Linked DNA regions of Homo sapiens: region 2 is linked to region 1. The links come from fine-mapping of genetic effects on gene expression. A gene starts in region 1. The other region holds a variant in brackets. All regions are shown on one strand. Distances are between the middles of the regions.

What was found.
Region 2: its variant is fine-mapped to the expression of BRD3OS in ovary (GTEx, PIP above 0.99).

What each region holds. Positions count from the first base shown.
Region 1 is chr9:134,022,277-134,027,781 of GRCh38, forward strand. BRD3OS (BRD3 opposite strand) reads left to right here and starts at 3,205. Exons shown (of 3, transcript NM_001355256.2): 1 at 3,205-3,260; 2 at 3,569-3,814; 3 at 3,932-5,505. The coding sequence starts at 4,472. The coding sequence ends at 4,726. RefSeq lists silencers at 2,639-2,768, 3,079-3,498.
Region 2 is chr9:133,803,620-133,808,619 of GRCh38, forward strand. VAV2 (vav guanine nucleotide exchange factor 2) reads right to left here. Exons shown (of 30, transcript NM_001134398.2): 8 at 3,639-3,707; 9 at 2,462-2,562. Among named protein-coding and RNA genes, the nearest start is that of SARDH, 68 kb to the left of the region's middle. RefSeq lists an enhancer at 1-287. The variant T/C (reference allele first, on the strand shown) is at 2,086.

The DNA of each region.
Region 1 (5,505 bases):
GTCTCTAAGTCACCAAAGGGAGGAGTTATAACGACATGAGTGGGCTCTCCTATCCCATCGTGGCTGGGAACTCAGTTTTAAGTTTTTTCTGAGGTCCCCTTGGCCAAGAGGGGATCCGTTCAGTCAGTGAGGAGTTTAGGATTTTATTTTTAGTTTATATTCCCTTCTTTTGGCCAAGATTTGCCAGAGATGGCATTGATGACCAAACTTTTATTTTGTCCTATATCGTTGCTGGGGCTGTGTGCTACCTGCACTGGGTCCATCTTGTCCCTTGGTGGGATCCCTATGGCCAAGAGACTTAGAGCCAAAAGACTGAAAGACAGCTAATTAAATGTTTTAGGACAGATAGGAAAGGAGATGGGCAGGCACTCATTCACCCTTAAAAACCTTTTGTGCAGCCAGGTGCGGTGGCTTATGCCTGTAATCCTAGCACTTTGGGAGTCTGAGGCGGGTGGATCACGAGGTCAGGAGTTTGAGACCAGCCTGATCAACATAGTGAAACCCTGTCTCCACTAAAAATACAAAATGAGCCAGGCATGGTGGCACATGCCTGTAACCCTAGCTACTCGGGAGGCTGAGGCAGGAGAATCACTTGAACCTGGGAGGCGGAGGTTGCAGTGAGCTGAGATTGCACCATTGTACTCCGGTCTGGGCGACAGAGCGAGATTCCATCTCAAAAAAATCAAAATAAAACAAACAACAACAACAACAAAAAACAACCTTTTGTGCAACATAAGAGGCAAAAACCAAAATCCAAAACGTGAGGTTACAAAATTGACTTATCTCTAAGTTTTATGTATTGAGCTATCAGCTATTTAGGTATTTGTGAACCATCTTTGATTCAGAGGGTCTGAACAAATTTTATCCCTCGAAACCAGCCCTTACAATCTCATGCGTTTACCTCTTCTGCAATTGTCCCTGGGCCTAGAGGGAGGGTGTTTGATATCAAATCAGATTGGAGCCAATGGGATTTTAAATCATTTTCAGATTCTGGAGATATCAGGTAGAAAAAGAGAGGTAATCTTCATTTTTTACTTAATTGTTGTAGCTATAAAATAGCTTAAAAGGAAAAACAGCTTTTTGACTCTGGAAAACAAAACATAAGTAAATGTTTCGAACAGAAATATAAGTCCTATTTGGTTTTGACAACGACAGGAAAAGGAAGCTTACAGGTAACTAAATATTCAAATTATTTAGTTCAAGGCATAGAACAAATTATATTAGCTTAGAGGCAATTTTTTTTTTTTTTTTTTGAGATGGGGTCTCACTCTGTCACCCAAGCTGGAGTGCAATGGTGCAATCTCAGCTCACTGCAACCTCCGCCTCCTGGGTTCAAGAGATTCTCCTGCCTCAGCCTCCTGAGTAGCTGGGATTACAGGCGCCTGCCACCACACTGGGCTAATTTTTTATATTTTTGGTAGAGACAGGGTTTCATCATGTTGGCTAGGCTGGTCTCGAACTCCTGACCTCAAGTGATGTGACCGCCTAGGCCTCCCAAAGTGCTGGGATTACAGGCGTGAAAACCGCACCCAGCCAGATAGAGGTAAAAGTGTTAAATGGGTCTTTGAATACAGGCCTGTTCTTGTGTCTCTTGAAAGCAGTATAACTTCGGTTGCTGTCTTTTCCCAGGTCGGAAGACTGGGAGATCATGTAAGATTTAAACGTTTTCAAATTTGTTGAAACTGATTTATGGTCCAGCATGTGATCAGTTTTGCTAAACGTCCTGTGTAGGTACTTGTGAAGAAAGTGCGAGGCAGGCGGATCACAAGGTCAGGAGTTCGAGACCAGCCTGGCCAATATGGTGAAACCCTGTCTCTACTAAAAATACAAAAATTAGCTGGGCGTGGTTGCCGGCGCCTGTAGTCCCAGCTACTCAGGAGGCTGAGGCAGGAGAATCGCTTGAACCTGGGGGGCGGAGGTTGCAGTGAGCTGAGATCGTGCCACCACACTCCACCCTGGGTGACAGAGTGAGATTCCCTTTCAAAAAAAAAAAAAAAAAGAATGTGCGTTCCACAGCTGTGGGCTTAGTGCTCACACTAAGCATCTTCCTTGGATGTCTGTTATGCTTATTTTCTTTTTTTTTAGAGATGGGGTTTTGCTGTTTCGTCCCAGCTGAAGTGCAGTGGCATGATTATGGCTCACTGCAGCCTCGAACTCCTGGCTCAAGGGATCCTCCTGCCTCAGCCTCCCAAGTAGGTGGGACTCAGAGGTGAGCCACCACACCAGGTTCCATTATGCTAGTTTTCTTAATTGGCATTGGAGAAAACCATAAAATTAGGGGAAAAGGGTAGATACTAAAAGAGTGCTATTGGAGTATGATTGGAGGTGGAGTGAGAAAAGGAAATAGACCTTGCTTTCATGGGGCTGTTGAGGAGTCCAAATGAGCAGTATAGAGGCCTGGCTTGGTTGGATGAGATGGAGAAATTCAAGACCTATTTTTGAGATAGTAAGCCCGGACATTTAATTAATTAAAAATAATTGTATCAATTACTGAGAGTAAGAATACTAATAAAAGCAGTAACAGCAGTGGCAAAAGTAACCACACAAGCAGAAATACGAAAACCAAGATGATAAGACCATACAGTCCGGCAGTGTCTTACTAACAGGGTTGTGGGCGTCCCACTCCTTCTCTTCATCCTCCTCCAGCTCCTCCTCCACGTCTTCCTCCAGCTCCTGCTCCTCTTTCTTTTCCAGTACCTCCTCAGCCCCTTCTCCTCTGCCAGCCCCTCCTCCCACCTCCGCTCCCAGCCCCTCCTCCTTTCCCAGCCCCTCACCATCCAGCCCCTCCTCCTCCATCTCCTCCTCCTCTCTCAGCTCCTCCTCCTCCCCCAGCTCCTCCTCCTGCTCCTCCTTCTCCTCCACTCCTCCTTCTGCTCCTCCTTCTCGTTCAGCTCCTCCTCTCCCAGCCCCTCCTCCTCCTCCAGCCCCTCCTCCTCATCCAGCCCTTTCTCCTCTCCCAGCCCCTCCTCTCCCAGCTCCTCCTCCTCCTCCCTCCTCCTCCTCCAGCCCCTCCTCCTCCAGCCCCTCCTCCTCCAGCCCCTCCTCCTCCTCTTCCAGTTCCTATTCGGGGCGGGCCCAGCCCCTCCTCGCGGAGCGATCGATGGCTTGGGCTCGTCGCACACGCCTGCCCAGCCTCTGCGCTCGGCTCGCCAGGCCTGCGGCGCTGCCATGGAGACACGGCCCAGCGGCCGCCGGCCCCGCCCTGGGAGCCCCGCAGTGCGTCGCGCCGCTGCCCGCATCTCCGAGGCCCGCGACGAGCGGTGACTGGGGCGGGCGACGTGGGGGACCCGGGGATGCGGGCAGACGATAGGGGGCTGGAGGATGGGGCGACCCAGAGCGCGCGGGGTCTGGGGCGCGGGGATGGGGGCCGCGGGCCACGCGACGGGGACCCCAGGGTGCGCGCAGGTGGCGGGGACGCGCGATGGGGGCCCGGGAAGCTGAGGCTGACCTAGCGCAGGCATCCCAGGAGGGGAGGTCCCTGACGCTGCGCAGCTGGGAAGGCGTTCGGGAGTGGGTTGCGATGCTTCCCTGTTTGTTTTCTCCTGACATCGTTTTTGTTTGGGTCCAGGGGCCTCACGGGAGCTGGATGCTCGGAGCAGCAAGGCGGCCCTGGGGGCCCCTTCCGGTCCCGGGGCTGACGCCTGGCGGCGTCTCCGGGAACCCGCGCCCTTTCAAGCGCCGCTGGCTCCTGTTTCACAGATGGAGACCCTGAAGCCCCAACAAGCAGCCTCCCCAGCACCTCCCAGTGACTGAAAAAGCTGGCACTGGGCGCCCGTCTCACTCTCCACCCAGCTCCCAGGCTGCCCCACGGGACGTAAGTAGCTCGATCTAGGCCGCTGACCCCCAGAGACTTGATGCTGCGCTGCAGACTGCCGCCGCTGCCGGGGCGCTTGACTTCCCCTCTCCTGACAGCACGTTCGTTCCTTTGCAGCAGCACCTTTGGGGAGAGACGAGACCTGAACAAACGCTGGGGCTGGATCCCCAGGGTGGGTCAGAACAGCCGTTGCCCTGAAAGCTGGCCCGGACAGATGCGTGCGGGGCGTGCCACCGGAGCTCCTTCCAGCTTGCGTCTGGGGCCACCATGTCCCTTCCTCAGGGCACTGGATCCATCTCTTCAAGCTCAGTGGTCCAGGCCATGGTGGCAGAATCACCCCCCAGGGTGTGACGCCTCGTCCCTGTCAATTCCACACAGCTGCACCCGGAAGAGCTGTGGCCGGGCGCCGCTCTGACCTGTGTGCGGTCCCCTGAATGGGTCTCAGGTGTCTTCAGAATGGTGAGGCCGCCTCATTTCCTCACCACACAACCCTCCTGAGGACGTTGCCTGCAAATGGGCGGAATTCCTAATTTCTACCATTCAGTTAAACGAGGGATCCTTAAGCCCCAAAGCTGGGAAAGCTGTCCGTTAATTTAGTGCGCGTGGGCCGTCTCAGAACAGCAGGGTTCCCAGGAGTCCAGCGGGACGGGGGAGGGGATGAGTGGCCGTGTCCCCCTGGCAGAGAAGGCCTTGTCTGAAGGCTACGCCCGCCTCCGGTACAGGGACACCTCCTTGCTCATCTGGCAGCAGCAACAGCAGAAGTTGGAGTCGGTGCCACCTGGGACGTACCTGAGCAGGAGCCGAAGCATGTGGTACTCACAGTATGGAAATGAGGCCATCTTGGTCCGAGACAAAAACAAGCTCGAGGTCTCTAGGGACACAGGGCAGTCCAAGTTTTGCACAATTATGTAATTCCGATGTGAGCACCTGAACCCAGGACCACACTTTGAGGAAAACAGACCTGAGTTTCATTCAGTTGTCTTGTTGATTTCCAATCCTTGCTGGAAGATTTTGAATAATGAACGTGAAGATCAAACTGTGGTGTAAGAACCCAAGAAGCGCAGAATTGGCCCCCGAACCCCTCAGCACAGCCGCGGTGTGACTGGTGCACAGGACACTTCCCCTCTAGAGTCCCCTCCGTGGTCAGCTGTTGTGACATTTGAATTCTCCAGGTGCTGCTAGGGACAGCATAGGCCCGGGCACTGCTAGATGCTTGGTTTAAACCAGGCCAAGAGTAACCCTCCCATCCCCATTACAAACCACCTTTTCAAGTTTTTTAGGTTTTAGTTTTTTGTTTTTAGCATAAATGGCGGAGTAGCAGCAGCATCTCACCAGGAGCTTTGTCGCATTACATTTTGTATTTTGCTTTTTTGAGACGGGGTCTCACTCTGTTACCCAGGCTGGAATACAGTGGCACAATCACAGCTCACTGTAGGCTCTATCTCCTGGGCTCAGGTGATCCTCCCAAACTCAGCCTCCCAGGTAGCTGTGGCTCCAGGCGAACTACTGTATATAGAGACAGGGTTTCCCTATGTTGCCCAGGCTGGTCTGGTCTTATAGTCCTGGGCTCAAGCCTCCCAGAGTGCTGGGATTACAGGCATGGGTCACCGCACCAAGCCCGCATTTATATTTTGAGTTACCAAAATGATCATCATCTGTGAAGCATCATGGTAGCTTCCAAGCATTTGCGG
Region 2 (5,000 bases), 220 kb before region 1:
CGAAGGCTGCATTCATGAAAGTATAACCTCAAAAAGAGGGAGGTGACTGTCTCCTGCCACTCAGTGCCGATCATGCCACACCGGAATGCTACTCCACCCTTCACCCCCGACGAGCTGCCAGGACCCTGTCACAAAGCCCTTCAGCAGCTTCCTCGTGCCCTCGCTTAATAAAAGAAAAATTCTAAATCCTTCCTTTGGCCTGGAAGCCCCTGCAGGACCCTCCAGCCCTTCCCTGGAGAACCGCCCCTTTTCTACTGGGCTCATGCCTCTCACCTTCCCCTAAGCTTCTGCTCCCCAACCCGCCTCGCCCCACCCCTGCAGGACTGTGCTCAGGGGGACACGTCCTCCGCTGTGCAGCCCTCACGGGTCTCCTGGGCTCTCCAGCAACGCCGCAGCTCCCCCCGGAGCTTCTCTATCTTGTCTTGGTTCTCATCCATCCCACCCAGCGAGAGGCCAGTAGCTCTGTTCACTGCGTGTCCTCAGTCCAGAGCTCAGGAGCCATACAGAGCAGGCACCCTATAAAAGCTTCAGGACTCAGCCAGCAAGCAAGAACCAGGACCTTGGGGCCGAATCCGAAATGAGAGGAAAGGGGCAAAAAAGCTGGATGCTGGGACAGAACCACGATGATTTGGTGATGAGCTCTGATGAAACGCTGACAGCCCCTTCCCCAAACAGACCCCGACTGACGGATCTCGCCACACGCCTCGCTGCCAGGGACGGAGCTGCCCGTCCACAGAGCTCTTGGGCTGGGCCTGTGACTGGACGTGCTGCCCGCACTGCAGTGGCGCTCCAAGGCAGAGATGCCCGCTGTTCCTCAGCGGGAACCACCCATGCAAGGTCCTGCTGGTGGGACAGGGCCAGGGGTGTCGCCGGGCAGCCTGACTGTGGAGGGAGGCTCCTGGGAGAGGACAGGTTATCCACCCTGTCACTCTACCACACAGCCAGCCATTCCTCCTCCAGGGCTTCAGCCTTTGACGGACCTCGAAGCAAACCACGCCTCATCCGTGGCTCCCTCCCTTCCTGGCCGAGGGACAGCATGAACAAGGCGCTGAAAAGGACCACTGTACCCCACACCTGCTGAGGACTGGGGCGACAGCCAGTGTGACCTGCCAGCCGGGCACTATCAGCTCACCCACAGATGAAGGGAACACCTTGCTGAGGGCAGGTTAGGGAGCTGTCCTCCCCCGATCCCTGCCCACTCTTAACCCTCTGGGGCTGGCCAGTGTGCTCACACCTGCTGGGCCTCGTCAGCTCTCCTGGTCCCCTCTGCCACTGGACCACAAGCACTGCCTGCTCCCTCGTGTCTCCGGGAACCCTCCAAGCCATGGCCCCTGGAGAGCAGGCTCCAGGACCCTCCTCACAGGGAAGGGGGGAGCGCCTTTCCTGAAGCTACAGAGCACACAGGGAAGCACCTGCAGGGCTTCCCAGGCAACGTGCCTGAGAATCCAGCCCTGGGCCTGTCCCCGGCTGCCTGGACAGGGAGGGGTGTGAGCTGTGCTGACGGCCACCTGGCGGGTGATGCAGGGGACCCTCCTAGAGATGAGGGAGAGATGGACCCGGGCGCCCAATGCCTAGGCTCAGGGCCGCGTGGTAAGATGCACCTGTGGGGTCTTCTACAACTCCCCAGGCCCCAGAGCAGACCCAGACCCTTCCAAGAGTGGACCCCGGACATGGTATTTGTAACAAGCTCCCCAGTGGCTCTAGTGAGCAGCCAAGTTCAGGAAGCATTAGCATAGACCCCTTCGGGCTCCTCCAAAGGATCCCCGAGGGACAGAGAGCTTGGCACCGTCCCCTGATGGGGCTCTCTCGAGACTTCCGTGGCTGGAAACGCCATCTCCCCAGCCTCTGACAGCCTGGGCATTGTCTAACCCCCAGAAACGCCATCTCCCCAGCCTCCGACAGCCTGGGCATTGTCTAACCCCCAGAAACGCCGCCTCCCCAACCTCCAACAGCCTGGGCATCGTCTAAGCTCCAGAAATGCCACCTCCCCAGCCTCCGGCAGCCTGGGCGTCATCTAAGCCCCAGAAACGCCACCTCCCCAGCCTCCGACAGCCTGGGCATCATTTAAGCTCCACGTGCCACCTC[T/C]TTTCATCCTTGTCCACATCCTAACTTTAAAGAACCGGCCACAAGGGTGCAGAAGGGAGAAGTGGGGGCCCGAGATCTCCGCTGGGACAGCCGAGCCACTTGGATGGCCACACCTCTCACAGCCAGTTAGAAACATCCAGAACCCCAATCCTGCCCCTGCCGAGCTCCCACAGGACAGGAGGCTCCACACCCTCTCCATCAACCAGGCTGCGGCTCGGGGTGGGTGGCATCCTCAACAAGGGAGGACGGGGTCCAGAGGGGGCGGCCCCTGCCTCGGGACACCCCAAGAGTCCCACTTACACAAGAGTTCCACTTGTGTAAACTCTCCCGCAGACAGGGAGGGGCCAAGGAGCCCCAGGAGCCGGCAGCCACTCACCTTTCCTTGAAATCGAGGAAGACCTTGGCCAGCGTGCTGCCCCCCACCATCACGGACACGTCGATGGCCCTCAGGAAGCTGTGATGCACCTTGATCAGGTCCTGGGTTGAAAACCAGCCGTGAGTGCCTGGCCAGGCCCACCCAAGGCTAGACGGGAGCGCCGCCCTTAAAGTGCCCTTGTTGTTCTGTAGTTCCCTCAAGGAGGGGAGGGGCCCGGGTGCTGGGCCTGCACCCCACATCTCTGTGCATGCCAGGGTGTGATTCAGGTAGAAGGTTCTATGGCGATGGTGCAACAGAAGAGCCAGTACGTGTGGGAGGGAAGCCGCCCACAGCCCGCACCAGCCCATCAGACACGCAGCGGCCGACTCGGGGCGGGCTCTGCAGACAGCGTGGGGCGGCACAGCGCAGTACTCCTGTGCTCAGGCCACACCCCGGGACCCCCATCCCCACCCCGGGACCCCCATCCCCGCCCCAGGCCTCTTTCTGTCTGTGCTCCTCCATCCTGGCCACAGCTCAAGGACAGATGAACTCTAGGTCAGAGGCACAGACTATAGGAAGCTCTGGGGTCCAAGCCAGCCTCATCCAGGGCAGCGTGACCAGAGCTCACCCTTGCAGCTAATGAGACGGCCAGGGAGGCAGGACACAGCCACCGCACGGGCTGCTGGCACCTGTGGCCGCCAGGCCAGGAGGAAGGGCCAGGAGCAGCATGTCCCCGGAGGAAGCCCACCCATGCACGGCTGCCGGAGCCTGGTGCCAGCGCCCTGCTCTGCTAACCACGTCTAGGTGACTCTTTGCATGGGGAACTGCCTTTCTATGACTGAGTTCAGACACCCGCAGGGCAGGCGAGGGGGTCCGCTCAAAGGGGTGGAGGGACACGTTTCTCTCTGGCCGCTGACAAAAACTTCATTTACATTCTCAGCGTCATCCGTGCCTCCAGCCACGCACGTCAGTGCTGCCCTCACCCGCAGACAAGCGGAGCCCAGAAACCTGCTACCCTGGCTCCTAAATCCAAAGACCCTGGAGAGAGCGGTGGGGGCTCCTCCTTCCGGCCAGCACGAGCCACCACGGAGCCACAGGGGTGCAGCTCTCCAAGGCCCTGAGGACAGCAGGACATGTGTGGCCAGTGCCGAGTTAGGGCCCCGAGCCTGGCATGAGCGATGGGGGCCGGGACCCTTACCTCCAGGTTAATGAAGACAGCTGCCATGTCCGCCGGGCTCAGCACCAGCCGCAGGGGGCTCATGTAGTTCTGGAAGAGAGAAGTCCACCTCTGCCACCCTGCTGCTGTTGCCCACCCTCTCAAGGTCACAGCTGCCAGGGGAGGGTCCCAGGGCAGCTCCGAGGCAGGCACTGGGGTGCTCCATGCTTACTGGGGTAGCCTGTGTTCTGGCCACATCGGGCTCCATTCTTTGGAGGTGAGTGCAGGGCAGGAAGGTGCGGGGGTAAAGATTCTAACGCTCCCAGCGTGACGGGGGCAGAGTCCTGTGGTGGCCACTCACACACAGGGTGGACTTGGGCACTATGGCTGCCCTGAGGTGGGCGTTGGGGTTGTGGCTTGCGGTGAGGGGCTGAGACCCAGGAGGCAGGGCCATCACCCGTGGGGACTCTCTGGATGGACAGGGCCATGGTCCCCACCCAGCACTCAAACACTGAGCTTGTGCTCCTGAGCATGACCCCAAAACTGTCATCAAAAGGGATGCTCTCCACCCCGAGGAGTGCCGGTGGTGGGGCAGGCTGTGGACGAGAGTCCTCCAGCTCCAGCCTCAGGCGGGATGTGAAGTGAACATGAGGACGTGTGAGGCTGCTGACCCTGCTCTGGAGGCCCGGCCACCCTCTCCTCTCCTGCTCCCCGAGTGGCTCCTGGTCAGGGCAGCCAGCCGCTCTGCAGGCATCCTCTGGGCCCAGCTGCTGCACCGCTCCTTGGTCACCACGTGGCACAGAGAGCATCGCCCAAGCAAACACGCCCGGGTGGCGGCCCCAGGCTGGGTGGAGACAGACCTCAGGAGCCCTCCTGCTTTCTGCAGCAGCATTTAGCCATGGAGGGATACAGAGGCCAGCAGGGCCCTGGCAGAGGCTGACCTCAGAGCCAGGATTCTCAGAAGCCAGGGCATGGGCAGGGCTTCGAGGGAACTGGAAGGACCTGGGCCAGGGTGTACAGATGTGCGTGCAGAAAGGCCGCTGGCCAAGGACCAGAGGGTGGGGCAGCAGGAGGGGGCCCGGCCGGAGCAAGGCCAGCCTGGGCCCAAGGGGGCAGCCCAGGTCTCCCGGCTGGAGGCATCACGGCCACCCTGGTTGGTTTTTCTCCCCAGTAAACACTGGCAGTTGGCAATGAAGACTCAGAAGTGCTAGGGAAATGTCCCAGGGCCAGGTTGACCAGGTGCCTACAGGAGGCCCAGGTGGGGTAGGGGAGGTGAAGGCTGATCCTCAGCACTCTAGGAGCTCAGCAGGCCAGCAGGAGAGAGGACTCAGATGCACAAGAGTGGAAGAGCTGGGCAAGGAGCTTGGAGTCTGCAGCTCTGGTCACTAGGCCGGGCCATGCCTT